Linked DNA regions of Homo sapiens. The protein of the gene in region 2 purifies or fractionates together with the protein of the main gene of each other region. This does not show direct contact. Each region holds a gene or a part of one and is shown on either strand. Other genes may lie near its edges. The genes, in order: RP2 and SLC44A2.

Region 1 (11,873 bases), on a different chromosome or scaffold from region 2:
ACAGCAAGAAGGCAGCTGTCTGTAAGCCAGGAAGAGAGCCCTCACCAGACACTGAATCTGCTAGCACCTTGATCTTGGACTTCCCAGGCTCTAGAGCTGTGAGAAATAAACTTCTGTTATTTAAGCCACCAGTCTGTGGTATTTTGTTATGGCAGCCTGTTTTAGTCTGCTCAGACTGCAAAAGCCAACCTCTTGCTATGTCATCACCAGACCTGTCCTCTGTGTGAAGGAGAGGGAGGGAGCAAGTGCAAGCTAACTGAATCTTCTTATAAGGACACTAATCCTATCAGATCAGCACTCTACCTTTATGACCTCACTTAACCTTAATTACTTCCTTAGAGGTCCCATCTCCAAATACAGCCATGTGTAGGGGGGTAGGGCTTCAACATATGAATTTGACAAACATTCAGTCCATAACAGCTGCCAATGCTGAGGAGTTAAATGTAATTTACTACCCTAAGTATTTTCTCTGGACGCTCCACTTTTCCTAGCTCATAGGGAGAAATTAATCTGATAGCTAAAGATTTTATAGCTAAATAGTTCTGTAGTATAAAATTAGTTGGATTGTCAGCACGGCCTTCCAAGGAGAAATTTAAGATTTATGTTGCTGTACTTTCTCAACAATTCCTGAAAGTTTTTCAAAACAAAAAGCATTAGGAGCTAGACACAGTGGCTCACATCTGTAATCCCAGCTACTTGAGAGTGGGCCAGTGGCCTAGTGAGACTAGGAGTTTGAGACTGGCCTGGGTGACACAGTGACACTCCCCTAGCTCTAAAAAAGTTTTTTAAAACTTAGCAGATTATTTGAAGTGAGTTGGTGGAAGGGGGGTAAAAAAACACAAAAACCCTTAGCTGGGCATGGTGGTGTGCGCCTGTAGTCCTAGCTACTCAGAAGGCTGAGGCAGGAGGACTGCTTGTGCCTGGGAGTTCAAGGCTGCAGTGAGCCATGATCATGCCACTGCACTCCAGCCTGGGTGACAAAGCAAGACCCTGACACTTTAAAAAAAAAAAAGTAATAATAAACAACTGAAACTGAAATCCTTCGTAATTTTGCAGGTTACTAGTTCTGAAATAAAGTGTCTAGAATCACAAACATGGAAAGGTCATGTTTTAAATTATTTTTTCCTAAGAGCCACTTATGAAGTGAGTTTAGTTTAGACTGTATTTTTTTTTTCTGACACAGGGTCTCACTCTGTTGCCCAGGTTGGAGTGCAGTGGCACACTCACAGCTCACTGCAGCCTCGACCTCCACCGTTCAAGCAATCCTCCCCGCCTCAGTCTCCTGAGTAGCTGGGACTACAAGTGCACACCACCATGCACAACTAATTTTTGTATTTTCTGTAGAGATGGGGTTTCGCCATGTTGTCCAGGCTGGTCTCGAACTCCTGGACTCAAGCGATCCACCCACCTCAGCCTCCCAAAGTGCTGGAATTACAGGCATGCGCCACCGTGTCTGGCCTAGACTATTTCTTACTACAATCCTTAAAAGGTAATGGATATACTTTAAAAAATCAAGGAAAGTGGCCAGGCGTGGTGGCTCACGCCTGTAATCCCAGCACATTGGGAGGCCGAGGCGGGTGGATCACCTGAGGTCAGGAGTTCCAGACCAGCCTGGCCAACATGGTGAAACCCCGTCTCTACTAAAAATACAAAACTTAGCTGGGCATGGTGGTGGGCGCCTGTAATTCCAGCTACTTGGGAGGCTGAGGCAGGAGAATCGCTTGAACCCAGGAGGCAGAGTTGCAGTGAGCCGAGATCGCACCACTGCACTGCAGCGTGGAAGACAAGAGCCAAATTCTGTCTCAAAAAAAAAAAAAAAAATCAAAGAAAAATTTCAAGAGTTGTAATTCGTCTGATATCAATTTAATGTCCTACAGCTATTAAACCAAGTTAAGCATTATTTTCCTAACAGAAAACAAAAATGAACATCTTATTATCTTACTAAGCGGCAATACAAATTTTTCATTAAAATTCATCTCCACAGTTAAATTTCCATAATGATAATGTGAGATAAAATAATGGGATTTGTTAATTCCAATGAAAATCCAGTCTGAATAGAAGTAAAAAGATTCAGGAGTATAAGAAGCACTATATATGTACCAGGCACCATACTAAGTGCTCTATAATCATTCACTCAATCCATAAAAACCCCATAAGGGTTGTGTACTATAATTATCTCTGTTTTATACTTGAGAAAATTGAGGCACACAGAGACTATATAACTTGTCCAAGGACACACTGTGAGTCCATATATATATATATATATATATATATATGTATATACACATATATGAGTCCATATATATGTATATACGCATATATATGCGTGTATATATATACACACACATATATACACATATATACACACATATATACACATATACACATATATGTGTGTATATATATACACACACACATGTGTGTATGTACACACACACATGTGTGTATATACACACACACATATGTGTGTATATACACACACACATATATGTGTGTATATATACACACACACATATATATAGTGTGATCGATATAGATATATATATGTAAAGAGAGATATGCCTGTTTATGAACTCTCTATTCCATTGATTTGTGCATCTAGTAAGCAATTGTTTTGTATATGTATGTATATATATACACACATATATATGGTGTATGTGTATATACATACATACATACATACATATACATATAGTGCAGTGAACCGAGATCGCGCCACTGTACTCCAACCTGGCGACACAGCAAGACTCCGTCTCAGAAAAAGAAAAAAAATTCCTAGATGTGAAACCAAAAACACAATCCACAAAAGAAAAAGTGAGTGGAAATTGGACTTTTACTCAAATTGAAAATGTTTGCTCTTCAAAAGACACTCTTAAGAGAAGGCAAGTTATTAACTGGGAAAAAAGTATTTGCAAAACATATATATAACAGGGGACTTGTATCCAGGACATATAAAGAGCTCTGAAAAACTCAATAATAAGAAAACAAATAACCCAATAAAAAAATGGGCAAATGATTTGAATAAACATTTTACCAAAGATATATGGATGGCAAATAAGTACATGAAAAATGCTCAACATTTAGGTAAATACAAGTCATTTGGGAAATGCAAGTTAAACTACAATGAAACATCACTACACACCTATTAGAATGGCTAAACATTTTTTTTTAAAGCTAGGCGAGGTGCAGTAGCTCACAGCTGTAATGCCAGCACTTTGGGAGGCCAAGGTGGGACGATCGCTTGAAGCCAGGAGTTTCAGACCAGCCTGAGCAACACAGCCAGACCTTGTCTCTACAAAAAATAAAAATATTAGCCGAGTGTGGTGGCAGACACATGTAGTGTAGTCCTAGCTACTTGGGAGGCTGAAGTGGGAAGATTGCTGGAGCCCAGGCAGTCCAGGCTGCAGTGAGCCATGATCATGCCACTGTACTCCAACCTGGGAGACTGAGCAGACCCTGTCTCTTAAAAACAAATTAACCTGACAATACCAAGCAAGTGATGTGAGGATGCAGAGCAACTGTATCTCTCATATACTGCTGGTAGGCAAAATGGCATAGCCACTTTGAAAAATAGTTTGGCAGTTTCTTTTTTAAATTTTTAATTAATTTTTTTTTTATAGAGACAGGGTCTTGCTCTGTTGCCCACACTGGAGTGCAGTGGTGCAATCAGAGCTCACTGCAGCTTCAAACTCCTGGGCTCAAGCAATCCTCCTGTCTCAGCCTCCCAAGTAGCTGGGACTACAGGCATATGCCACTCTGCCTGGCTATGTTTATCCATTTTGTAGAGGTGGGGTCTCACTATGTTGCCCAAGCGGGTCTTGAACTCCTGGCCTCAAGCGATCCTTCTGCCTTCACCTCCCAAAGTGCTGTGATTACAGGTGTGAGCCACTGACCTGGCAGTTTTTTGTAAAGTTTAATAAACAATTTCCATATGATCAGCAATCCCACTCATGAGTATTTACCCAAGTGAAATGAAAACTTATGTTCACTCAAAAACCTGTACACAAATATTTATGGTAGCTTTATTCATAATTACCAAAATTGGAAACAACCCAAATGTCCTTTAACTGATGAATGGATAAACAAACTGTGATATATCCATACAACGGAATACCACTCAGCAATTAAAAAGGAACTCCCGGCTGGGTGTGGTGGTTCATGCCTGTAATTCCAGCACTTTGGGAGGCCAAGGTGGGCGGATCACCTGAGCTCAGGAGTGCAAGACCAGCCTGGGCAACGTGTTGAAACCCCATCTCTACCAAAAAGATACAAAAAATTAGCTGAGTATGGTGGCACTCGCCTGTTGTCTCCACTACTTGGGAGGCTGAGATGGGAGATCACTTGAGCCCCGGAGGCTGAGGCTGCAGTGCGCCAAGATTGTGCCACTGCATTCCAGCCTGGGTGACACAGTGAGACCCCATCTCAAAAAAAAAAACTCTTGATACATGCAACAACATGGATAAATCTTAAATGCATTATGGTTAAGTGAAAGAAGCCAGACTCAAAAGGTTACGTATTGTATGATTCCATGTATATGACATTCTCAAAAAGACAAAACTATAGGGATAGAAAACTTATCAGGAGCTGGGAGTGGGGCTGACTACAAAGGAGCAAACTGACTATACAAAGGAAGAACTTTTGGGGGCGATGGAACCATTTTATATCTTGATTGGTGATAGCTCCACAACTGTATTTATTTGTCAAAACTCATAGAACCGTACACTTAACAAGGGTAAATTTTACTGTATATAAATTACACTTCAATTAAAACAAATACTTAAAGTTTAAACATTGTTAAGTCAGCTTCAGGGCTAGATAGCTATGTAGCTGAGAGGTTATTTCACAAATGAAAACATTAGTGCCACATAATTATAGAACTAATAGTGCTGAAATATAAATTCTTAATCTCAATGACTTTGAAACATAATAAGAAAATGAACAGGACAAATAGTTTCTCTCAATAATAATATAAAACTTATGATCTTAGTCAATATACACACCTCCCAGAAGACAGATCCACTATCTTTGCTATTAAATTGTGTTCTGGGCATGCAAAGCTAAAGGGTAGCCTCTGTGACACTATGGTTTGAGTTTTCCTGTGACTTAACCCAAGTGACACCTACATCATCATTGCTACTGTCAATACTGTCAGTAGGCTTTTAGCCTATTTGGAATTTATACAAGTAAAAAATGTACTAAGCTTTTATGAACAGACACTTCTCAAAAGAAGACATTTATGCAAGCCAACAGACACATGAAAAAATATTCATCATCCCTGGCCATCAGAGAAATGCAAATCAAAACCACAGTGAGATAACCATCTCACACCAGTTAGAATGGCGATCATTAAAAAGTCAGGAAACAACAGGTGCTGGAGAGGAGGTGGAGAAATAGGAACACTTTTACACTGTTGGTGAGACTGTAAACTAGTTCAACCATTGTGGAAGACGGTGTGGCGATTCCTCAAGGATCTAGAACTAGAAATACCATTTGACCCAGCCATCCCATTACTGGGTATATACCCAAAGGATTATAAATCATGCTGCTATAAAGACACATGCACATGTATGTTTATTGCGGCACTATTCACAATAGGAAAGACTTGGAACCAACCCAAATGTCCATCAATGATAGACTGGATTAAGAAAATGTGGCACATAAACACCATGGAATACTATGCAGCCATAAAAAAGAATGAGTTCATGTCCTTTGTAGGGACATGGATGAAGCTGGAAACCATAATTCTCAGCAAACTATAGCAAGGACAAAAAACCAAACACTGCATGTTCTCACTCATAGGTGGGAATTGAACAATGAGAACACTTGGACACAGGAAGGGGAACATCACACACCGGGGCCTGTCGTGGGGTTGGGGGAGGGGGGAGGGATAGCATTAGGAGATATACCTAATGTAAATGACAAGTTAATGGGTACAGCACACCAACATGGCACATGCATACATATGTAACAAACCTGCACGTTGTGCATATGTACCCTACAACTTAAAGTATAATAAAAAAATTTTTTTAAATAAAAAAAATGTACTAAGCTTTGTAGAGTACCAGGGTCAAAAATATATTTTTTAAATGATTGTTTTAATAAAAGGGGCTATGAAAAATTCAACTCATATCCTATGTATCTAATGATCTTAACCACGACCTTGCTATTTCAGCTTTCTGATACCTTTTCTTTTTTGATGCTTCATTCTTAAAACTTCTATAAAAATTTCTGAGGCTGGGTGCAGTGGCTCTTGCTTTTAATCCCAGCACTTTGGGAGGCCGAGGTGGGAGGATCAGATGAGACCAGGAGTTCGAGACCAGCCTGGCCAATATGGCAAAACCCTGTCTCTATTAAAAATACAAAAATTACCCTGTATCTTGAGCTTATATAGTATAAGCTCAAGACCAGTATCTTGAGCTTATATACTATTGATGATTCGAGAAACTGAAGTACTACATTTATATTAGCTTACCATTTTGTGAAATATATAACAACAAAATAGAATTATGAAATTTTAGGATTGAAAAGATTCCCCATATCATCTAATCTAATCTGAATCTATTTTTACATCCTATCACATTCCCTTTGTTCATCCAGATTTGCCTGAATGTTTCTAGCAATGCTTACCTCCCCTCATGGGCTGCTCAAAGAATTCAAGAACTGGAAGGGATCTTAGGAAACTGAGGGCTAAAAGCTAAATTAGTTTACCAGTGAGGTGTAGTTAGGTGCAGAATACAAATTAAAATTCCAGCCCCATATACTTTTCACTCTCTATGCTTTTTACCTTTATCAAAATTTTATATGGGTGAAGAAACAACACTCACACATTGCTGGTGGAAATATAAATGGTGCAGGCACTCTAAAAAACTGTTTAGCAGTTCCTCAAAAAGTTAAACATAGGCCAGTCGCGGTGGCTCACGCCTGTAATCCCAGCACTTTGGGAGGCCAAGGTGGGCAGATCACGCAGTCAGGAGATCGAGACCATCCTGGCTAACATGGTGAAACCCCGTCTCTACTAAAAATACAAAAAATTAGCCGGGCGTGGCGGCGGGCGCCTGTAATCTCAGCTGCTGGGGAGGCCGAGACAGGAGAATGGCGTGAACCCGGGAGGCGGAGCTTGCAGTGAGCTGAGATCACACCACTGCACTCCAGCCTGGGCGACAGAGTGAGACTACGTCTCAAAAAAAAAAAAAAAAAAAAGTTAAACATAGAGTTACCATATGACCCAGCAATTCCAAACCTAGATGTGTACACAACAGAAATGAAAACATGTCCAGACAAAAACTTGTATACAAATGTTCATAGCACCATTATCCATAATAGACAAAAAGTAGAAACAACCCAAATGTCCATCAGCTGATGAATAGATAAATAAAATGTGGTATATCCATACAATAGAATAAAGTCTTGATACATGTTACGATATGGACAAACTTCAAAAACATGCTAAGTGAAAGATGCCAGTCACAAAAGGCTAAATATTGTGGCTCCAATGAAGTGAAATGTCCAAAATAGGAACACTTATAGAGACAGAAAATAAGTTTGTGGTTTCCAGGGGCTCGGAGAGACGAGAATGGGGAATGACTACTAATGGGTACAGGGTTTCTTTTTCCAGGGATGAAAATGTTCTAAAATTAGACCATGGTGATAAGCCTGTGAACTTACTAAAAAATACTGAATTATATACTTTATTTTTAAACTAAATTTATTTTAAATTTTTATGGATATATAATAATAGTAGTATGCATTTATGGGGTACATGTGATATTTTCATACAAGCATACAACAATGTAATGATCAAATATGGGTAACTGGGATATCCATTACCTCAAACACTTATCATGTCTTTGTGTTGGGAACATTCCACATTTTCTCTTCTAGCTATTTTGAAATATACAATAAATTATTATCAACAATAGTTGGCTGTGGTGGGTAGTGGGGAGGAGAGGATGAAGAGTGGTTGGTTAATGAGTACAAAAACACAGTTAGACGGCTAGGCACTGTGGCTCATGCCTGTAATCCCAGCACTTTGAGAGGTCGAGGCAGGCAGATTGCCTGCGGCCAGGAGTTTCGAGACCAGCCTGGCCAACATGGTGAAACCTCATCTCTACTAAAAAATACAAAAACTAGCTGGGTGTGGTGGCACGCGCCTATAATCCCAGCTACTTGGGAGGCTGAGGTGAGAGAATCGCTTGAATCCAGGAGGCGGAGCAGTGAGCGGAGATCATACCACTGCATTCCAGCCTGGGCAACAGAGTGAGACTCCATCTCAAAAATATATATACAGTTAGATAGAATGAATTATATACTTTAAATGGGTGAATTGTATGGCATATGAATTATATCTCTAAAAAGCTATTTTTAAAATTAATAAACAAAGAACTAGTTATATCCTTTAAACAACTTTATATAGAGGATTTAAAACCTACTGGCAAATTCTTTGACACTCCTCCCATTGAGAGGTCACCTCCTCTTGGAACTGGGTGGGCATTTGTGACTGCCTCAGCATTACTCCTGCCACATCCAAATTAAGTCTAATTAAGTGACTTAAGAATTCACTTAATAAGCTAGTTAGAAAAAAACCATGCAGCTTCTGCCAGTCTCTCTTAGGATGCTTGCCCTTGGAACCCTGCCATCACACTGTAAGGAAGCCAGGAATACATGGAGAGGCCCCAGCTGAGCTCCCAGCCCAAAGCCAGCATCAACTTGCCAGCCAGCTATGTGGTCAAGCCATCTTGAAAGCTGTCACGGTTGATGCCACATTGAGCAGAGTCAACCCTGCTTAACCTTATGCAAATTAAAGAGTTATGAACAAAATATCTGCCATTATTTTAAACCATTAAGTTTTAGGGTGGTTTGGTACACAGCAATGGGTAACTAGAATACTTTTCATACTTAAAAGAAGGCTAAAAACAGTATCTAGCCTCCTCCTACTTAGTGCAGACACTTCTTTCTAGCAGATTACCACCCTAACTGTCTGACAATTTTGACTAACATGGAGATCAGGTCCTCAACGAAGCCACCCCTTCCACTGATGACCAATCCTGGGAATTATGATCTGCCTTATGTTAAAACCAGTTCTGTCATGCCCAACCTCTGGTTTAAGTTCTTTCCTCAGAGGTGACCATTACTGTCTAAACCTCTTCTTCAGGACAGGCCTTTACCTTACTAAACAGTAGAGAAATCTTTAGCATTGTCCTACTATATAGCTGAGGAACCTGAAGTGCACAAATTGGCTGCTTTACCCAAAGTTACACAATAGATACTCGAATTTCTGGTATAAGATTTTTGTTTAGTATTATTTCTATTGAATATGAGACAAATATAACAGACACATGTGTTGTCCTTACTCAAATCACAATTTTCACACTTAAGCCATAATTGTTTAGAGTTAATCCTCATTTCTATTATCTAGGAGGAAAAGTATGGGCATGAATACTGGAAGATGAAAACTACTTTTCCGTATCACTCTTCCTCACCTCATATGTACTTAAATGTTTCCTGTTTTAACTCCAGAAAGCCAGTAAACTCTTTTAGGGCAGGGATAAGTCTTATAATTTTGAGACTTACTTGGTGTTTGAGTACATACATACTGAATAATTTGCCTACCTATGGGTGGCAGCATACAGATAAGGATAAAAACATTTCTTTTGAAATAATTTAAACACAAGTCTTACAATCCAAAAATATTTCTCATCACATCAGTGTAAGAATTGTAATCTTTTTTCTTTTTCAAAGTCAGTAGCAATAGAAAATGAGCTTCTTACACTGTTGACTACAGTATGTCAGTTGCTATGACAATGCTTAGTCCCCAGACATTCCTTCTAAATGAGACAATTTCTCCCAGCTTCAGTCCCCTAAGACTGACCCAATTACACAACTCAAACCCCAAAACCCAAGGGGTGCCCTTCAATAAAGATACTCTGGGCTGGGAGCGGTGGCTCACGCCTGTAATCCCAGCACTTTGGGAGGCTGAGGCAGGTGGATCACCTGAGGTCAGGAGTTCAGGACTAGCCTGGCCAACAAGGTGAAACCCTGTCTCTACTAAAAATATACAAAAATTAGCCAGGCGTGGTGGTGCACGCCTGTAATTCCAGCTACTCAGGAGGCTGAGGCTGGAGAATCGCTTGAACCCAGGAGGCAGAGGTTGCAGTGAGCCGAGATCGCGCCACTGCATTCCAGCCTGGGCGATGACAGAGCCAGACTCCATCTCAAAAAGAAAACATCAAAAAAAGATACTCTGATTACACAACCTAAGGAAAAATGTAAACACCCTTTTCTAAGCTGCAAGGAAATTTTTCAGGCAACCCATTTTGTTTTTACATGTAAAAGTCTTACAAGTTGAATGGTAATTGTCTGATATAACTTTAAAACTGTATATGCTATAATCCATAACCACATTCCAGAAGCCTAAACTTTTAATATAAATCATTTCTATTAATATGCATGCATCATATCTCATTTATGTTCTCTGGGCTGTATTTGCAATCTGTTCCTTTTAAGGTACAACTGAAATCTTCTAGGAGCAAGCAAGGCCATGCTCAGTAAACGTATCATTGGACTAATACAGAACATTTGCACACTAGCCCAAATTAACCTCACGGGAGGCAAGGAACTAGGAAAAAATATTTTATTTATTTATTTTTTTTTTTTGGAAACAGGGTCTCACTCTGTTGCCCAAGCTGGAGGGCAGTGGCCCGATCATGACTCATTGCAGCCTCTAAGTCCCAGGCTCAGGTGATCCTCCCACCTCAGCCTACTGAGTAGCTGGGACTACAGGTGTGCACCACCATGCCCCACTAATTTTTGTATTTTTAGTAGGAATGAGGTTTCGCCATATTGCCCAGGCTGGTCTGGAACTCCTGGGCTCAAGAGAGCCACCAGCCTTGGCCTCCCAAAGTCCTGGGATTACAGGCATGAGTCACCATGCCTGGCCCTAGAAAAAAATATTTTAAATTGTATAAAATTTAACAAGCTATCAAAATGAGGCAACTTAGAAAGAATTCCTAGTAATTCCAAAAGAAAAAAAAACTAAAAAGAAAAAGCTATGTTGGGAAATGTGGTATCTGCATTGTCTCAAAATGTAAGCTGGTAATTCTCTTCAACAGTCCAAAATATTTTAAAACTGGGGTTTTTTTCAGAATGCTCATTTGGTTAGAAATTCTCATTTTGATTGGCTGAGTTGATCAAGATTTTAACTTTTATTATACACACACTCAGAAGCATGAGCTTATTTTATATATCCAATAACATCTCTTACAACTCTACAACTACAGAACTTAGTAGTGTTCTCAAAAAAAAAGGTTCTCTGTAAGCTCAAAACAGTTTCTACAATTGAAAGTTTATTACACACTCATTTGTGGGGAAAAAGCTTAGATGTTGGTGTCCAATGTTATATTTCTCAATGCATTTACTTAGCCAATGGGCAAAAGAAGAAAAAAAATCACAGGACACACACACTTATCTAAAAGAAGGATTAACATGAGAAGTCCTAACTAACCTGAATATTATGTTAATAAACATTAACTGTAAAACAATTTATTGTGAAACGATGAGTCATAGGCAGCCAAGACTACTATAAATAAAAAAGGCATTTTATTTAGTTTAGATTTAGCCTGAGTTCAAAAGAAAAAACTAAAATAAAAATGAAATATGCAACTTTCTCTAAGGCAGACAATTCAAGCTAAAAGAACATTGTTAGAAAGCCAAAGGCTGAGGAAAACAATATCTTTTAAAAACCGCCCATCAGATAACTTTAAATGGCAGGTGCAATCTTCTTGTGAAATAGAAAGCATAGTACTTTCTTCCCCTACATTATAAAATGCTACTATCGAGTATGACTAACAGAGAATAAAGGTACCATGTGACCCAAG
Region 2 (17,124 bases):
AACATGGTAAAACCCTGTCTCTACGAAAAATACAAAAAAATTAGCCGGGGGTGGTGGCGGGCAGCTGTAGTCCCAGCTACTCAGGAGCTGAGGCAGGAGAATGGCGTGAACCCGGGAGGCGGAGCTTGCAGTGAGCCTAGATCGTGCCACTGCACTCCAGCCTGAGTGACAGAGCAAGACTCCATCTCAAAAAAAAAAAAAAAAAAAAAAAAAGGCCAGGAAAATGTATGATGTGTGTATTACTAGGTTTCTCCGAGAAAGCTAATAGGAGGTAGGTAGATGAGAGGGGATTTAGCAGAATAATTGGCTCATGTGATCATGGAGGCTGAGATGTCCTACCACATGCATTGACTGCAGACCCTGAAAAGCCAGCAGCTCCAGTAGCTGAAGACCCTGCAAAGCCAGTAGCGAGGCTCAGTCTGAATCCTAAAGCTTCAGAGCCAGGGACACCAATGGTGTAATTCCCAGTCCAAGGCCGAAGGCCTGAGAACCAGGGATCACTGGTATAAGTCTTGGAGTGTCAAGACAGGAGGAGAAGAGTGTCCCAGTTCTGAGGAGGAAAATGCTTTCTCTCCTTTTTCTGTTCTGTCGGAGCCCCAGCAAGTTGGATGGCGCTCACCCAGAAATAATGCTTTATCAGACGTGTTGCTCTGTCGCTCAGGCTGGAGCACAGTAGTGTGATCTCAGCTCACTGCACCCTCCACCCCCTGAGCTAAAGTGACCTTCTCACTTCATCCTACTGAGTAGCTGGGACAACATGTGCATGACCACCACACCCTGCTAATTTTCATAGTTTTTGTTGAGACAAGCTTTCCACATGTTGCCCAGGCTGGTCTCGAATTCAAGCTCAAGCGATCTGCCCACCTCGGCCTCCCAAAGTGCTGATTGCAGGCGTGAGCCACGGAGCCCAGCCACTGTTTTTTTTTTTTTCTTTGTCTTATTTTTACCACATCACAGCTCAAATCTGAGTATTTTCTAATCCAGCCAAGTTCACACCTAAAATTAACTATCACAGCACAGTGTGGTTGGAGGCAGGGAATATACCCAGATAAAGGAACTTGGCAGAGAGTGAAGCCAACCCAGAAGTGGAGCCAAAGCATGAAGCCAGAAAACACTATGGTGGTTCCTCAAAAAATTAAACATAAACCAGGCACAGTGGCGAGTGCCTGTCATCCCAGCTACTTGGGAGGCTGAGGCGGGATGATCCCTTCAGTCCGGGAGCTCAAGGCCAGCCCAGGTAACATAGTGAGACCCAGTGGCTTAATAAATAAGAAAGAGATGGAGATGGCAAATTTTATGCTATATGTATCGTACCACAAATCTTTTTCTTTCTTTCTTTTTTTTTCTGAGACAGAGTTTTGCTCTGTTGCCCAGGCTGGAGTGCAATGGTGTCATCTTGGTTCACCACAACCTCTGCCTCCTGGGTTCAAGCGATTCTCCTGCCTCAGCCTCCCGAGTAGCTGGGATTACAGGCATGTGCCACCATGCCTGGCTAATTTTTGTATTTTTAGTAGCAGCAGGTTTTCACCATGTTGGCCAGGCTGGTCTCAAACTCCTGACCTCATGATTCACCCGCCTCAGCCTCCCAAAGTGCTGGGATTACAGGCATGAGCCACCGCACCCGGCCGCCAGGAGCTATTTTTTAGGTGGGCATGGTAACAGGAGCTGGGGCTGAATAAAATGCCAGATTCAAAGGATCCAGGGAAACAAAGGCATCGAGGAAGGGGTCAGTGCCAGCATAGGGTAGAACTTGAGGACTCTGGAGCCAAGACCTGGGTTCAAATGCCTTCTTGGAAACAAACAAACAAAAATGCTGGCCAGGCTTGGTGGCTCATGCCTGTAATCCCAGCACTTTGGGAGGCCGAGGCAGGTGGATCACATGAGGTCAGGAGTTTGAGACCAGGCTAGCCAACATGGTGAAACCCCGTCTCTACTAAAACTACAAAAATTAGCTGGATGTGGTGGTACGCGCCTGTAATCCCAGCTACTCAGGAGGCTGAGGCACGAGAATCACTTGAATCCAGGAGGTTTAGTGAGCTGAGACTGTGCCACTGCACTGTGGCACTATGCACTGTGGCCTGGGCCACAAAGGGAGACTCTGTCTCAAAAAACAAACAAACAAACAAAAAAAACCAGCATGGGCAATATGGTAAAAATCAATCTCTACAAAAAATACAAAAATTAGTCAGGTGTGGTGGTGTGTACCTGTAGTCCCAGCTACTCGGGAGGCTAAGATGGGAGGATCACCTGAGGCTGTGGTGAGCCATGATTGCACCACTGCACTTTAGCTTCAGCCAGAGTGAGATCCTGTCTCAAAAAAAAAAAAAAAAAAAAAAGGCTGGGCCAGGTGGCTCACGCCTGTAATCCCAGCACTTTGGGAGGCCGAGGCCAGCGGATCACCTGAAGTGAGGAATTTGAGACCAGCCTGCCCAACATGGCGAAACCTGGTCTCTACTAAAAACACAAAAAATTAGCCAGGCGTGGTGGCAGGCACCTGTAATCCCAACTACTCGGGAGGCTGAGGCAGAAGAATCGCTGGAACCCGGGAGGTGGAGGTTGCAGTGAGCCGAGATCGCACCACTGCCCTCCACCCTGGGTGACAGGGCAAGACTGTCTGAAAAAAAAAAAAAAAAAAAAAAGTGGATATTGAAGAAAAATTCCCTGAGAGGAGGTGGAAAGAATTGAAATGTTGGGGCGGATTGCCTGGAGGTGACTGACACTGGCAGCTGGCACGAGGGGGCAGCAGCGAGCTTCCAGGCAGTGGGGCCCACCCCAAGGGCAGTCAGTCCCTTCGCAGATCCAAAGTAGCTGGGGAGCATAGTGACTGCAGGACCTCAGGTGCCTGGGCCCTGAGAGAGGGGAGGCCTGGGGGCGTGTGTCCAGGATGGGTGATGGCGGAGGTGGACAGGCTGCCTCTGCCTTCTGGAGTCCAGGGATTAGAGCCTAATCGGGAAATCTGAGCTGCCTGAAGGTTGGAATTCAGGCAGAGCCAGCAGCCAGTGGGTTTCCTGCCCCCTCCTCGTTCCCTTTGAGAGAATCGCCCTAGTTCAGAGACTCCTAGGGCCTTGGAAGCTGGGGTTCCCCCTACCAGCCGCCACTGGCTCACTGCCCCCAACAAACACACCAGGCCTGGACCTGTACAATAGGCACTTTATTAGTGGTTGGAATGCAGTTACACGCAGGGGTGTGCAGACGCAATGGGGGCAGGGCTGGTGCAGGCACAGGAAACGGGAGACCCCCCCCTCTTTCCCCTGGGGCCAGGAGTTCTCCCTCTCCAGGATCCTGGGACAGTGCTGATGAGCAGAGACATGAAGTCTGAGGGGGACTTGGAATATGGCAAAGGGGCAACTGGGAAGCCAGTTCCCCTGAGTTTGACAAGTTTGGCAAAAGGATCAAGTGAGGTGTGTGGGCAGAGGGGCCCGGTTTGCCCAGGACATCTGCCCTCCACCTCTCCCCCTGACATCATCCCTTGGGTGGGTTTAGTTTCTTTCCTCTCTTACAAAGAGAGCTGTGTCAATAACTGGCAGAGGAAGTCGGGAAATTCAGCCTAACTCCCTCCAGCCCAGCAGGTTTCCATTAAACAGCTATTAGCCATCTCCTCTCCAGCCTGCTCTCCACTGCCAACCCCCGCAAAACTCTCCCTCCCTTTCCCTCCTTCCCAGCCAGGAGACACCCCCACCTGGGCACACACACTCCCACCCGTCACTCCCAGCTAGGAGGGAGCAAAAGGAAGGCACTCCTTGGCGGCCCCATCTCAGCTGTTGAGACAGACGGAAAGAAAGCTAATAGACCCTTTAATGCATGTCCAGGTTAAAAAATAATAATAATAAAGAAATGCTTCTGGTGGCCCTTGAGCCAACTGTTCAGGTGTGGAGAAGGGGTTCAGTCCTGGCCGGAGCAGGCAGGAATAAACGTGGGTGTTCACTGTGGCCAGCAGCTCCCTCAGACACAAACACCGTCCTTCCTGTGGTCTGGCCCGTTGTCGTGTAAGCGGGGGACAGGAAGCATGAGGGAGCTTGTGGAGGTCGGGCCACGTGCCATCCCAGACATCAAGAGGCCCCAATGGGTTTTTACTTGTTTCTCGCAGTCTGGAGGGGCAGCCATGAAAACTCCAAGCGCCCCTTGGCATAAGAAGGAGATGCCCCAGACTCTCCACGTCCAGAAACTGGTGGGATCTGGCTCATGGGGAGGGGCAGAGCGGCAGTGATAGGACTTCAGGTGAGCCCAAGGGGCTGGGGGAACAGACCCAGCTACTGAGCACCCTGCGGCATGAGACTCCTTGAGAGGTGGGGAGCACGGGGCCTTCAGGACTCCGCTGCCTTCTTGTTGGTCTTGTTCAAGAGTTTCTTGAGGGTGGAAGACATGAAGTAAGGCCTCTCGGCCGAGCCGTCATTCCTCTCCAGGTCCTCCACTGTGGAGAGAGGTCCCAGAGCAGGAGGCATGAGGGGAGCCCACGGGCAGGGGCCTCAAGGACAGGGTAGGTGGATGAGGGTCACAGAGAAGCCTCAGAGGGTTAGAAAGCAGACACACTGGGACCAGAGAGGGGCAGACTGTAGTGGGCTCCGAGGGACACACAGGATCCCCACACTCGCAGGCCAGGAACCCCCCCGCTTCATGCACCCCCAGTCTACATGGAGGAAACCTGGCCCCCACGCCAGTCTCCCTCACTCTCTACTCCTCGGCTTCTGCCCGCTTCCCCTCCTCCGCACTCCCCTTCAACAGGATGTCTCTCAGCTCGGGCGACATGAAGTAGGGTCGCTCCTGAGAGCCGTCATTCCTTTCCAGGTCCTCACCTGGGCTCCCCCCGGGAACCGGCAGGGGGAAAATGGGGTGGTCGGGAAGGGAGGGAAAGAGGGAGGCAGGGAAGAACAGGGAAGCCAGCAGGCATGGAGGAGAGGAAGAGAGAAGAAAAAAACAAACAAAAAAAACAGATGGAGAGACCAGAGTTAGTGGCAGCCACAGATCCCCTCCCCCCAGTCAAAGCCAGAAACTGCGAAGCGCGGGCGGGCTCCAGGGCAGCGTCCAGGCTGCAGCCTGGGCCAGTGGACAGGAGGTCGGAGCTGCTTCTAAGCGCAAAAGGAAACCAGGAAGACAGGCTGGGGACCCAGGACGAGGGACAGCCAAGCCCTGGGGAAGCTGGGGGCAGGCAAGCGTGTTGCCCCGTTGGAGGGTGATGTGATGCCCAGTGGAAAGAAGGGATTCGGGGCCCAGCAAGGTTTGGGGTGAGGGGTCACTCACAGAAGCAGAGGAACAGCGTGTCCACACACATGCCATAGACGCTGAAGAAACCGTGTGCAATCAAGTAGGAGCCAACGATCACCGTCTGGGCAAGGAGAAACGAGCTGTCCCTGCTCCGTGTCCTTCCCAGAGCAGCCCCCACCCCCTGAGTCCATCCTATGCTGGGACCACATCCTTCCCCTGCTGAGAAACCCTCTTTGGATTAGTGACATCCCAACCCCTCACCCCCGCTGGCAGGGCCCCACCATCCACACAAAATCCTCTTTCTCTCTCTCCGTCTTTTTTTTTTTTTTTTGAGACGGAATCTCACTCTGTTGCCCAGACTGGAGTGCCATGGTACGATCTTGGCTCACTACAACCTCTGCCTTCCAGGTTCAAGCAATTCTGCCTCAGCCTCCGGAGGAGCTGGGACTACAGGCACGTGCCACCACGCCTGGCTCATTTTTGTATTTTTAGTAGAGACGGGGTTTCACCATGTTGGCCAGGCTGGTCTCAAACGCCTGACTTCAGGTGATCCACCTGCCTCGCAGCCTCCCAAAGTGCTGGGATTACAGGCGTGAGCCACCGCACACCCGGCCTTTTTTTTTTTTCTTTTTTTGAGACAGGGTCTCACGGTCTCACTCTGTAGCCCAGGCTGGATTGTAGTGGTGCAATCTCAGCTCACTGCAACCTCTGCCTCCTGGGCTCAAGTGATCCTCCCGCCTCAGCCTCCGGAGTAGTTGGGATTACAGATGTGCACCACTGTGCCCGGCTAACCTTTGTATTTTTTGTAGAGATGGGTTTTTGCCACGTTACCCATTACCCATCCTGGGCTTAAGAGATTCGCCCACCTTGGCCTCCCCAAGTGCTGGGACTACAGGTATGAGCCACTGCACTCAGCCTCACCCTTGCTTTCTTTAACCCCTGGGCCTCTGCATGTGCTATTGTCCTGACTTAAATCTAATTTATGCCCCATCGACCTTCTGCTTTCAGCTCAAAGAGCAAGTCCTCAAGTCCCACCTCCTCCAGGAAACCACCTACGACACCTAGAGTGGGCGTTTTTTTTTTGTTTTTTTTTTGAGACAGGGTCTCACTGTGTTGCTCAGGCTAGAGTGCAGTGGCCCCATCTCAGCTCACTGCAGCCTTGACCTCCCAGGCTCAAGTGATCCTTCCACCTCAGGCTTACAAGGAGCTGGGACTACAGGCATGTTCCAGCATACCCAGCTAATTTTTGTATTTTTTTGTGGAGATGGGGTTTTGCCATGTTGCCCAGGCTGTTTTCAAACTCCTGAGCTCAAGCGATCTGCCTGCCTCGGCCTCCCAAAGTGCTGGGATTATACATGTGGGCCCCTGCGTCTGGCTGAGAGCCTTTTTTTTTTCCCTCCTGAGACGGAATCTTGCTCTGTCACCCAGGCTGGAGTGCAGTGGTGGGACCTTGGCTCAGTGCAACCTCCACCTCCCGGGTTCAAGCGATTCTCTTACCTCAGCCTCCTGAGTAGCTGGGACTACAGGTGCGTACCAGCACACCTGACTAATTTTTTTGTATTTTTAGTAGAGATGGGGTTTCACCATGTTAGCCAGGATGGTCTCAATCTCCTGACGTTCATGATCCGCCTGCCTTGGCTTCCCAAAGTGCTGGGATTACAGGTGTGGGCCACCATGCCCGGCCTCTAGAGCCTATTTTATGTCCTCCTAGCACTGGGCACCCCTCCTGAGCTCTTGGTGCAGCTGCAATTTTATGCATGTTTAGGGCTTTCAGGTTTAATGCTCACATCCTCACTAGACCCAGTCCCATTTACTGCTGCATCCCTAGCAATCTGGAGACTCACACGGCCTTGGTAGCTGCTAGATAAACATTTGTTGACTGAAGTCAGTGGACCTGGCTGGGCGTGGTGGCTCATGCCTGTAGTCCTTGCACTTTGGCAGGCTGAGGCAGGAGGATCCCTTGAGTCCAGAGTTCAAGACCAGCCTGGCAATATAGGGAGACACTGCCTCTATTATTATTGTTATTATAGTAGAGCCTGAGCCACAACACCTGGCCTATCTCTATTATATTAAATTAAAAATTCAAAACAATGAAATGGCCAGGCACAGGGGCTCATGCCTTTATTGGCAGCACTTTGGAAGGCCGAGGTGGGTGGATCACCTGAGGTCAGGAGTTCGAGACCAGCCTGACCAACAGGGTGAAACCCCGTCTCTACTAAAAATACAAAAATTAGCCGGGCACAGTGGCATATGCCTGTAATCCCAGCTAGTCAGGGAGCTGAGACAGGAGAATCGCTTGAACCCGGGAGGTGGAGGTTGTGGTGAGCAGAGATCACTCCATCGCACTCCAGCGTGGGTGACAGAGCAAGGCTCTATCGCAGAAAAAAAAAAAAAAAAAAAAAAGTCAGTGGACCTTAGAGGATTAAATAATTTGCCCAAGATTACTCTTACTCATCTTAGAACTACTAAATAGAGGAACTAAAATAAGAAACTAGGTCAATGGGCTTCAAGACCTACACTGAGATACAATACTGCCCTTGCAATGAAGGCTCAATCCCTCCACAGCCTTGTTAACCTCCTTGGCCGTATCTCCACTTTTTTTTTTTTGAGAGAGAGTCTCACTCTGTCACCCAGGCTCGAGTGCAGTGGCGCGATCTCGGCTCACTGAAACCTCTGCCTCCCAGGTTCAAGCAGTTCTCCTGCCTCAGCCTCCCGAGTAGCTGGGATTACAGGTGCCCACAACCACGCCCCGCTAATTTTTGTATTTTTTTTGTAGAGACTGGGTTTCGCCATGCTGGCAAGGCTAGTCTCAAACCCCTGACCTCAGGTGATCCACCTGCCTCAGCCTCCCAAAGTGCTGGGATTACAGGTGTGAGCCACGGTGCCTGGCCCTTATCTCCACTTCTTTACTCCTTCCACGTCAGCCCCACTGCTTCCTGGCACACTCCCACCTCAGGGCCACTGTACTGTTCCCTCTGCCTGGATATTGCCTGCAGCTTCAGATCTCAGATCCAACATCACCTGCATGGCACCACCTGGACCCCCCCCACACCTGCCCAGCCCCCACCACAGTTTCAAACAGTTCCCTGTGCTATACAGACATACTCGTGGCATGTCCCAGTTTGCAATCATACATTCACCAATATCATTATGGAGGAGTATCTGTTTACCCCCAAACTCTAAGGCCTTTAGAGGGAAGCCCTCCACCTCGATGCCTGACACACAGTAGGTGCTTGATAATGTTTGTGGTCTGAGGTCGGGCGTGGTGGGTCACACCTGCAATCCCAGTACTCTGCGAGCCCGAGGCGGGCGGATCACTTGAGGTCAGGAGTTTGAGACCAGCCCAGCCAACACGGTGAAACCCCATCTCTATTAAATATACAAAAATTAGCCAGGTGTGGTGGTTCACGCCTGTAATCCCAGCACTGTGGGAAGCTGAGGCGGGTGGATCACCTGAGGTCGGGAGTTCGAGACCAGCCTGACCAACATGGAGAAACCCCGTCTCTACTAAAAATGTAAAATTAGCCACACGTGGTGGCTCGTGCCTGTAATCTCAGCTACTCGGGAGGCTGAGGCAGGAGAATTACTTAAACCTGGGAGGCGGAGGTTGCAGTGAGCTGAGATCACCCTATTGCACTCCAGCCTGGGCAACAAGAGTGAAACTCCATCTCAAAAAAAAAAAAAAGTTAGCCAGGTGTGGTGGCAGGTGCCTGTAATCCCAGCTACACAGGAGGCTGAGGCACAAGAATCGCTTGAACTAGAGAGGTGAAGGTTTCAGTAAGCCAAGATCATTTCACTGCACTCCAACCTGGGCAACAGAGTGAGTCTGTCTCAAAAAAAAAATTAAATTAAAATTAAAAAATAAATATACAAAAATTAGGCAGGTGTGGGGGCAGGCACCTGTAATCCCAACTACTCGGGAGGCAAAAGCTCGAGAATTCGCTTGAACCCGGAAGGCAGAGGTTGCAGTGAGTCAAGATTGCACCACTGCACTCCAGTCAGGGCGACAGGGCAAGACTCTTGATTCAAAAACAAACAAAAAGTTTGTGGTCTGAATAAATAATCAATTCCCCACCTCTGACCTCTATCCACATTTATCTAGTCAAAGAAGACCAAGCAAATCCCAACACCTCTTTCTTCCCAAACCCCCATCTCTCCCCAGAGGTCCATACCAGTATAGGAACCCAGTAATAATTGAGGGGTGGTGCTGTATCCTGCACGATCCTGATACGGTGGGTGAAGAAGAAGAAAGCCAGGATCCCTGGAGAAGGAGAAGAAAGCAAGATGGCGAAGGGTTCTGGATATAGGAAACAGCCTCCTAAGAAGATGACACTCATCACAGAAGACAGAAATCAGGCTCCCACACCCCGAGAGGCTAGGTGGGCGGCACTCACCCACACTACCAACGATCAGAAGTTTGCCCAACAGGAAGAGGAAGTCAGTAACTTTATCCAGGACAGCCACTCTGCAGGGGACAGTGAGGGGCAGGTGTGAATGCTGGCTTCAGGGACTAGGGGAAGAGGCGGGTGGCAGGAGGAAGATGATAATGATTCCCGACCTGATGATGTTTCTCATGAGCAGGAAGAAGGCATTCCTGGCCGAGGTGCAGAAATTGGTGCCGTAGATGGCAATCTGGAGGAGAGTGGGAGGGAGAGATCAGACCCACTGGGTGGGCATGGGGGGTGGTCCTCTCACCCAGCAGGAGCTGGCGGGTTGGTTGGGGGTCCCAGGCCCACTCACCATGATGTAGGCATTCCTATTAAGGAATTTGATGAACTTCTCCAGGCACCAGAAGCAGCATTTGAGACAGGTCATGAGGCACTTGGCAAACTTGTTCTCTGCAGCTGGAAGAGAAGGGAAGGGATGTGGAAGTGAGGGGACACCAGCCTGACTTGGAAGGGATCCCCTCTTCCCTATCACACACACTTGCCAATGTCCAGGTCTCCTGAGTCCACGCTGTCAAAGAGACAGGGACTTAAGCCCAGGAGTTTGAGGCTGCAGTGAGCTATGATGGTGCCACTGCACTCCAGCCTGGGTGACAGGGTGAGAGATCCTGTCTCTAAAACAAAGTACCATCAATCCCAGCCCCAGAGCCCTTCCTCTAAGAAAAATAAACCAGTTTTTTTTCCTTTTTTTGAAATGGAGTCTCGCTCTGTTGCCCAGGCTGGAGTGCAGTCGCTCGGTCTCGGCCCACTGAAACCTCAACCTCCGGAGTTCAAGTGATTCTCCTGTCTCAGCCTCCCGTGTAGCTAGGACTGCAGACGCACACACCACCATGCCTGGCTAATTTTTGTATTTGTAGTAGAGACGGGGTTTCACCATGTTGGCCAGGCTGGTCTCCTGACCTCAGGTGATCCGCTCGCCTCAGCCTCCCAAAGTGCTGGGATTACAGGCGTGAGTCACGGCGCCCGGCTAATAAACCAGTCTTATTCCTGCTCTCTTCAGCGCAAATATATACCACTCCAATTCACTCTGGTAATAACCAATGGTGGGCCAGGCCTCTTGGGCCTGTCCCCTCAACAGCAAGAATTCCACCCAGTAGGTTCTCTGGTTTGCTCCTCCATCGCAGGACTCAATCACGCCAACTCCTGAACTCCACCCCGTCATAGACAGAAACCCATCACTGCTCTATTATCTTGGCCCCGCCCACCTCCAAGCAAGACCCAATCCTGGTTCGCTATTCAGCCTCGCCCCGCAACAGGAGCTAATGCGAACCGTGGGTGGGACGTACCTTTCAGCCGCTGATCCAGGTACTCGAGTATCACACGGATGATCTGCACAATGGCCAGGATGAGCGCGCCAAAGGCCAGGGAGCCTGTGTGGTACCTGCGGGCCGAGGGAGTGGTCGGTGGCTGGGCCAGGCCTCGTCCTCCACCCCATCCTGCCTGCAACGCCAGCCCACCTGAGCGCCCGGCCAAAGGCAGAGAAGAGCGGGAAGGCCGGCAGGTCGTCCGGCTTGCGCAGGGCCCAGTAGTAGGAGGCAAAGGCCCCGGCCAGCGTGACCTGGCCCAGCGCCAGCACGAAGTTGGCCAACCAGAAGAACATGAAGGCATTGAAGATCTGCAGGCCCAGCAGGGCCCGGTGGTAGCCCGACTCACCACCGTAGAAGGCGAACTGGCAACGGGCATTGGGGCATTGGCGGGACTCATTGGAGGAGGGGAAGGTCTGTGGGAGAGAAGGGAGAACCGAGTCCAAAAAGAGGCACCAGGGGTTCACAGTGGGCTCTGAGCATCAGGTGTGGGGCCAGGAAAACCATGAGGTAGGACAGGAGACATAGGGATTGAAGTTAAGGGAAGGAATTAAGAGTTCAGAATATGGCTTGTGCAAAGGAAGGGATTCTAGAAACAAGACGTGGCCATCACTGGGGTCAAGAAGAGGGCATGGAGACAGGAAATGAAATGGGGAAAAATGGGCCGGGCGAGGTGGCTCACACCTGTAATCCCAGCACTTTGGGAGGCAGAGGCAGGTGGATCACGAGGTCAGGAGATCGAGACCATCCTGGCTAACATGGTGAAACCCTGTCTTTACTAAAAATACAAAAATTAGCCTGGTGTGCTGGTGTGTGCCTATAATCCCAGCTACTCGGGAGGCTGAGGCAGGAGAATCGCTTGAACCAGGGAGTTGGAAGTTGCAGTGAGCTGAGATCATGCCACTGCACTCCAGCCTGGTGACAGAGCAAGACTCTGTCTTATTAAAAAAAAAAAAAAAAAAAAAGGAAGTAGGGAAAAATGGGTGATTTAGCACCCAGGGTGAAGGCCTGGTCAAGTTGAAGAGAGGAAGCCAGCTTGCCCTGGGAAGTTGTTCGATCCAGTTAGAGAGTCTCTTCCCCACTGTGCGTCCTCCCCCACACCTAGCACAGGACATGCAACAGGGGCCAATTGTTTGCTGAACCTCCAAGTGGACATGAGAGGTTTCAAATCATCTGGGGCCTGCTGGGGCAATACCTGCCCTCCCCACCCCGGGGACGCCCACCTCTGGGTTGCAGGTTTTCGCAGTAAATGGGCAGGGGCTGTCATCAAAGATCTTATAGACCGCTTCGTTGGAAGTGGACAGGAAGCTGGAGGTTCGTTAAGGAAGCAGAGGTCTAGGACTGAGGACCCCAGGGACTTTTGTGGGAAAGAATCCATTCTCCCACCAGTTTCCAGCCCTATCCCTAAGCTGCAGGTCACTTCTAGGCAAAGTTGGTCTTTAGCCATCCCTGGGGTCAGAGATCAGTGTCTGGGGGCAGATACACAGCAGTGCTGGCCCAGTAGGCGATGCAGAGGCACAGCAAGAAGAAGGTGACCAGTGGGTAGAGCAAGGAGCACATGACGTATCCCACAGCCCTAGGGAAGAGCAGAGACACAGGCGTCAGGGCAAAAGACACAACTCTAGGGACAGCTCCATCCTGGCCCCTGGCACCCTGGCCCCCCACCTGCTGGCTTCTTTGATGAGTGCAATCGCGATGAGAATTCTCTTCCGGAGAAAGATGAGCAGCAAGATGATAATGACTTCAAGGATACTCAGAATGATCACTGCAAAGGGCAAAGGCTGAGCCGGCTGGGCTCCCCACTCCCTCCAAGGCCTCATGTGGGGGCAGGAATGGGAGACTGTGACTCACTAAAGGCCAACCAGGTCTGCCGTAAGTGCAGGTACACCCGGAAATCCGTCTGAAAGCCGAGGTCCACCAAAGAGACATCAGAGCCGGCCTCACCACGCAGTCGGGAGTACTCCATGTAGCAGTGAAATATTCCTGCATGGGGGAACCACAAGCTCAGTCCAGCAGTGCCTCCTGCAACTTTGCAAAGCAGCTACAACTGCCCCCATTTAACAGAAGCAAACATCGAGGCTTCTGCCTCAGGGACTTTACACTTGCAGTTCCCACCGCCCGGTGCATTCTCTCCCCATGGCTGGATCCCACACATCCTTAGGTCTCTGCTCAAGTGTCACCTTCAGAAGAGAACTTCCAGAACCCTTTCCCCCTACTTGGAATCATAATCATATGCTGCCATGGTCTAAGTTCTCTCTCTTTTTTTTTTTTTTTGAGACGGAGTTTCACTCTTGTTGCCCAGGCTGGAGTTCAATGGCACAATCTCGGCTCACCGCAACCTCCACTTCACGGGTTCAAGCGATTCTCCTGCCTCAGCTTCCCGAGCAGCTGGGATTACAGGCATGCGCCACCATGCCCGGCTAATTTTGTATTTTTAATAGAGATGGGGTTGGCCGGGCGCGGTGGCTCACGCCTGTAATCCCAGCACTTTGGGAGGCCAAGACGGGTGGATCACGAGGTCAGGAGTTCGAGACCAGCCTGACCAACATGGTGAAACCCCGTGTCTACTAAAAATACAAAAAAAAAAAAAAAAAAAAAAAATTAGCTGGGCGTGGTGGTGGGCGCCAGTAATCTCAGCTACTCAGGAGACTGAGGTAGGAGAATTGCTTGAACCCGGGAGGCGGAGGTTGCAGTGAGCTGAGATCGCGCCACTGCACTCCAGCCTGGGCGACAGTGAGAGACTCTGTCTCAAAAAAAAAAAAAAATAGAGATGGGGTTTCTACATGTTGGTCAGGCTGGTCTCGAACTCCCAACCTCAGGTGATCCGCCCACCTCTGTCTCCCAAATTGCTGGGATTACAGGCGTGCGCCACCGCACCCAGCTAGAAACCACTATTAATATGAATATTTTACTATGAGTGTCCTCAAATTGGATTGCCAAGCATTTTTCTTCCAGGAAAGTTCAAGGAATAATCAAAATATGGGCCAGGCACAGTGGCTTGCGCCTGTAATCCCAACACTTAGGGAGGCCAAGGCGGGAGGACTGCTCAAGCTCAGGAGTTCAAGACTAGCCTGGGCCACATAGGGAGAACCTGTCTCTACAAAAATATTAAAAATTTAGCCAGGCATGATGGTGCTTGCCTGTGGTTTCAGCTACTTGGGAGGCCAAGACGGGAGGATCACTTGAGCCCAGGAGGTCAAGGCTGCAGTGAGCTGTGATTGTGCCACTGAACTCCAGCCTGGGTGACAGAGTGAGACTCTGTCTCAAAAAACAAATCAAGGCTGGGCGCGGTGGCTCACGTCTGTAATCCCAGCACTTTGGGAGGTCGAGGCAGGCAGATCACGAGGAAGTCGAGACCAGCCTGGCCAATATGGTAAAACCCCATCTCTACTAAAAATACAAAAAAAATTAGCCGGGCATGGTGGTGTGCGCCTGTAATCCCAGATACTCGGGAGGCGAGGTAGGAAAATTGCTTGAACCCGGGAGGCAGAGATTGCAGTGAGCCGAGACTGCACCACTGCACGCCAGCCTGGGTGACAAAGCAAGACTCCGTCTCAACAACAACAACAAAACAACAACTCAAAAACAACAAAAATCCAAAATATGAAGCACTGTTTTGTTGAGCACGATATTGTGCCTCTGGATTCCACAGGCCTGAACTAAACAGGCCCCTACCCATATTTTATCTGCTCATTACCTCCTTGTCATTTAGTTTGCCAACTAGAAATATGAATTACCCTCATTTTATAGAGAAATAAATTGAAGCAGTCCGGGCGCGGTGGCTCCTGCCTGTAATCCTAGCACTTTGGGAGGCTGAAGCGGGCAGATCTCCTGAGGCCAGGAGGTCGAGACCAGCCTGACCAACATGGAGAAACCCCATCTCTACTAAAAATACGAAATCAGCCGGGCATGGAGGTGCATGCCTGTAATCCCAGCTACTTGGGAGGCTGAGGCAGGAGAATAGCTTGGACCCAGGAGGCGGAGGTTGCAGTGAGCCAAGATCGCGCCATGGCACTCCAGCCTGGGTGACAAGAACAGAACTCCGTCTCAAAAAAAAAAAAGAAAGAAATTGAAGCACAGTTAGGTTGAGGCACTTGCCCAAAGAATTGGCAAAGCCAGGATTTGAACCTCTGCTATTCTGATACCAGAGTATGCATCCTTAACTACGGTGCTGAGACATTTTTTCTTTTTTTTTTTTTTTTGAGATGGAGTTTCGCTCTTGTTGCCCAGGCTGGAGTGCAATGGCGTGATTTCGGCTCACCACAACCTCCGCCTCCCAGGTTCAAGCGATTCTCCTGCCTCAGCCTCCTGAGTAGCTGGGATTACAGGCATGCACCTCCATGCCCGGCTGATTTTGTATTTTTAGTAGAGACGGGGTTTCTCCATGTTGGTCAGGCTGGTCTTGAACTCCTGACCTCGGGTGATCTGCCTGCCTCGGCCTCCCAAAGTGCTGGGATTACAGGCGTGAGCCACCACGCCCGGCCTGACTTTTTTTTGTTTTCCTGATGGGCCATTTCCACGGGAAAGGGCAGGGCAGTGTGCGGATTCAGGAAAGAGAAGCCACAGGGAGGGGGTGACGCACCGTAGCCCAGCACCAGAATCACCATGATGATCATCACCCAGACCATAATACCAGCCAGGAAGCGAAGCAGGATGATGAACAGGAGGCTCATCGCCATGGCAATGACCAGGCCTCTGGGGAAAAGAAAACGGTCATGAACAGACTCCACCCTCAGCCAGGCTTAGAGGGGGCAGCCAGGGGAGAGGCCCCTTCCCTCCTGACTTACATGATAATCCAGTACCAAGAGACGGTGTAATCTTCAAATATGCGCATGGCGAGTTGCCGCGCCTCTAGGACTCCATTGGCTTTCCTGGGGGAAGGAGGACAAGGCTCGGGTCAGACCCTCTTCCATGATCAGGCCAACCACAGGGGATTGCCTGTCCCACCCAGCAAAGTGAGACCCTGGCGCGGTGCGCCAATATCCTCACTTGGCGCCCTCCACCAGGTCTGTGATGTTTTTCCGGGAGCCATGCCCATCCTCATAGGTCGTCTCATTGCCCACCATCAGGACACCCTTGTAGGCGTGGATAGCGGGGAAGCATCTCCGGGCCACTGCATGGAGCAGAGGATGGCACCAGTCAGGCTGAGCCTCTGCAGAGCCTCCCCGTCACCACCTGAGCCTCCTGGGATCCCCTGACTCACAGGGTTTGCTGGGGATGAGGACAGCAGGGCAGTCACCATCTTGAAGCACCTCAGCCACTCCCTGCCAAGAGAGATGGAGGGAGGTGAGTCCCCAAGTCTAGTACACTGCCACTGCCCATACCTGTGCTCTCAGGACAGTCTACAACTCACTTTATTGTTCTTGAAGCCAGGAACACAGAACTGCTTATAGTACTCAAAGTCCCGGGAGCTGCGAGCATTCAGGTACGTGAGGTAGCGGTCGGGGCATTTTTCCACGCAGATCTGGGAGGGGAGAAGGAAGGGATTGGGTGGAGTTGGGGCAGACTGCTCAGGACTGAGGTCGCAGCCCACATTCACAGGGGGAAAAGGATGGGAAGCGGGGAGAGGAAAAAGGGAACGGTGGGGACCAGGTTACCTGGGGAGTGGGACATTGGAATTCCAGCAGAACCAGGGGGCTGGCACATTTCACAATGTTGAAATAAAACAGATAGGGTTTGTTCCTGGAGTTAGAGAAGGGAGAATGGAAACTGTTAAGATTTTTTTTTTTTTTTGAGACAGAGTCTCGCTCTTGTTGCCCAGGATGGAGTGCAATGGTGTGATCTCGGCTCACTGCAACCTCCGCCTCCCGGGTTCAAGCAATTCTCCTGCCTCAGCCTCCCGAGTAGCTGGGATTACAGGTGCCCGCTACCAAGCCCGGCTAATTTTTGTATTTTTAGTAGAGATGGGGTTTCCACCATGTTGGCCAGGCTGGTCTCAAACTCCTGACCTCAGGTGATCCGCCTGCCTTGGCCTCCCAAAGTGTTGGTATTACAGGTGTAAGCCACCACACCCGACCTGTTAAGACTTCTTAACCACCCTATAGAAAACTTTTTTTATTTTTCTCTTTTTTTTTTTTTTAGATGGAGTCCTGCTCTGTTGCCTAGGCTGGAGTGCAATGGTGTGATGTGGGCTCACTACAACCTCCGCCTCCTGGGTTCAAGCAATTCTCCTG

Evidence for each region.
Region 1: the proteins of SLC44A2 (region 2) and RP2 purify together in Homo sapiens (affinity purification with mass spectrometry; 4 studies listed by BioGRID and IntAct, with this or other methods). This does not show direct contact.

Annotation. Positions count from the first base shown.
Region 1 is NC_000023.11:46,838,333-46,850,205, reverse strand, and holds part of RP2 (protein XRP2), read right to left. Parts: intron 1-11,873. UniProt on the Homo sapiens protein: Acts as a GTPase-activating protein (GAP) involved in trafficking between the Golgi and the ciliary membrane.
Region 2 is NC_000019.10:10,630,566-10,647,689, reverse strand, and holds the end of SLC44A2 (choline transporter-like protein 2), read right to left. Parts: intron 16,634-17,124; coding exon 16,549-16,633; intron 16,416-16,548; coding exon 16,305-16,415; intron 16,216-16,304; coding exon 16,155-16,215; intron 16,065-16,154; coding exon 15,941-16,064; intron 15,823-15,940; coding exon 15,739-15,822; intron 15,647-15,738; coding exon 15,534-15,646; intron 12,935-15,533; coding exon 12,803-12,934; intron 12,717-12,802; coding exon 12,617-12,716; intron 12,528-12,616; coding exon 12,435-12,527; intron 12,260-12,434; coding exon 12,175-12,259; intron 11,368-12,174; coding exon 11,105-11,367; intron 11,029-11,104; coding exon 10,934-11,028; intron 10,047-10,933; coding exon 9,943-10,046; intron 9,835-9,942; coding exon 9,761-9,834; intron 9,668-9,760; coding exon 9,597-9,667; intron 9,464-9,596; coding exon 9,375-9,463; intron 5,324-9,374; coding exon 5,239-5,323; intron 4,794-5,238; coding exon of another isoform or gene 4,672-4,793; exon of another isoform or gene 4,412-4,671; coding exon 4,305-4,411; 3' UTR 3,133-4,304; downstream 1-3,132.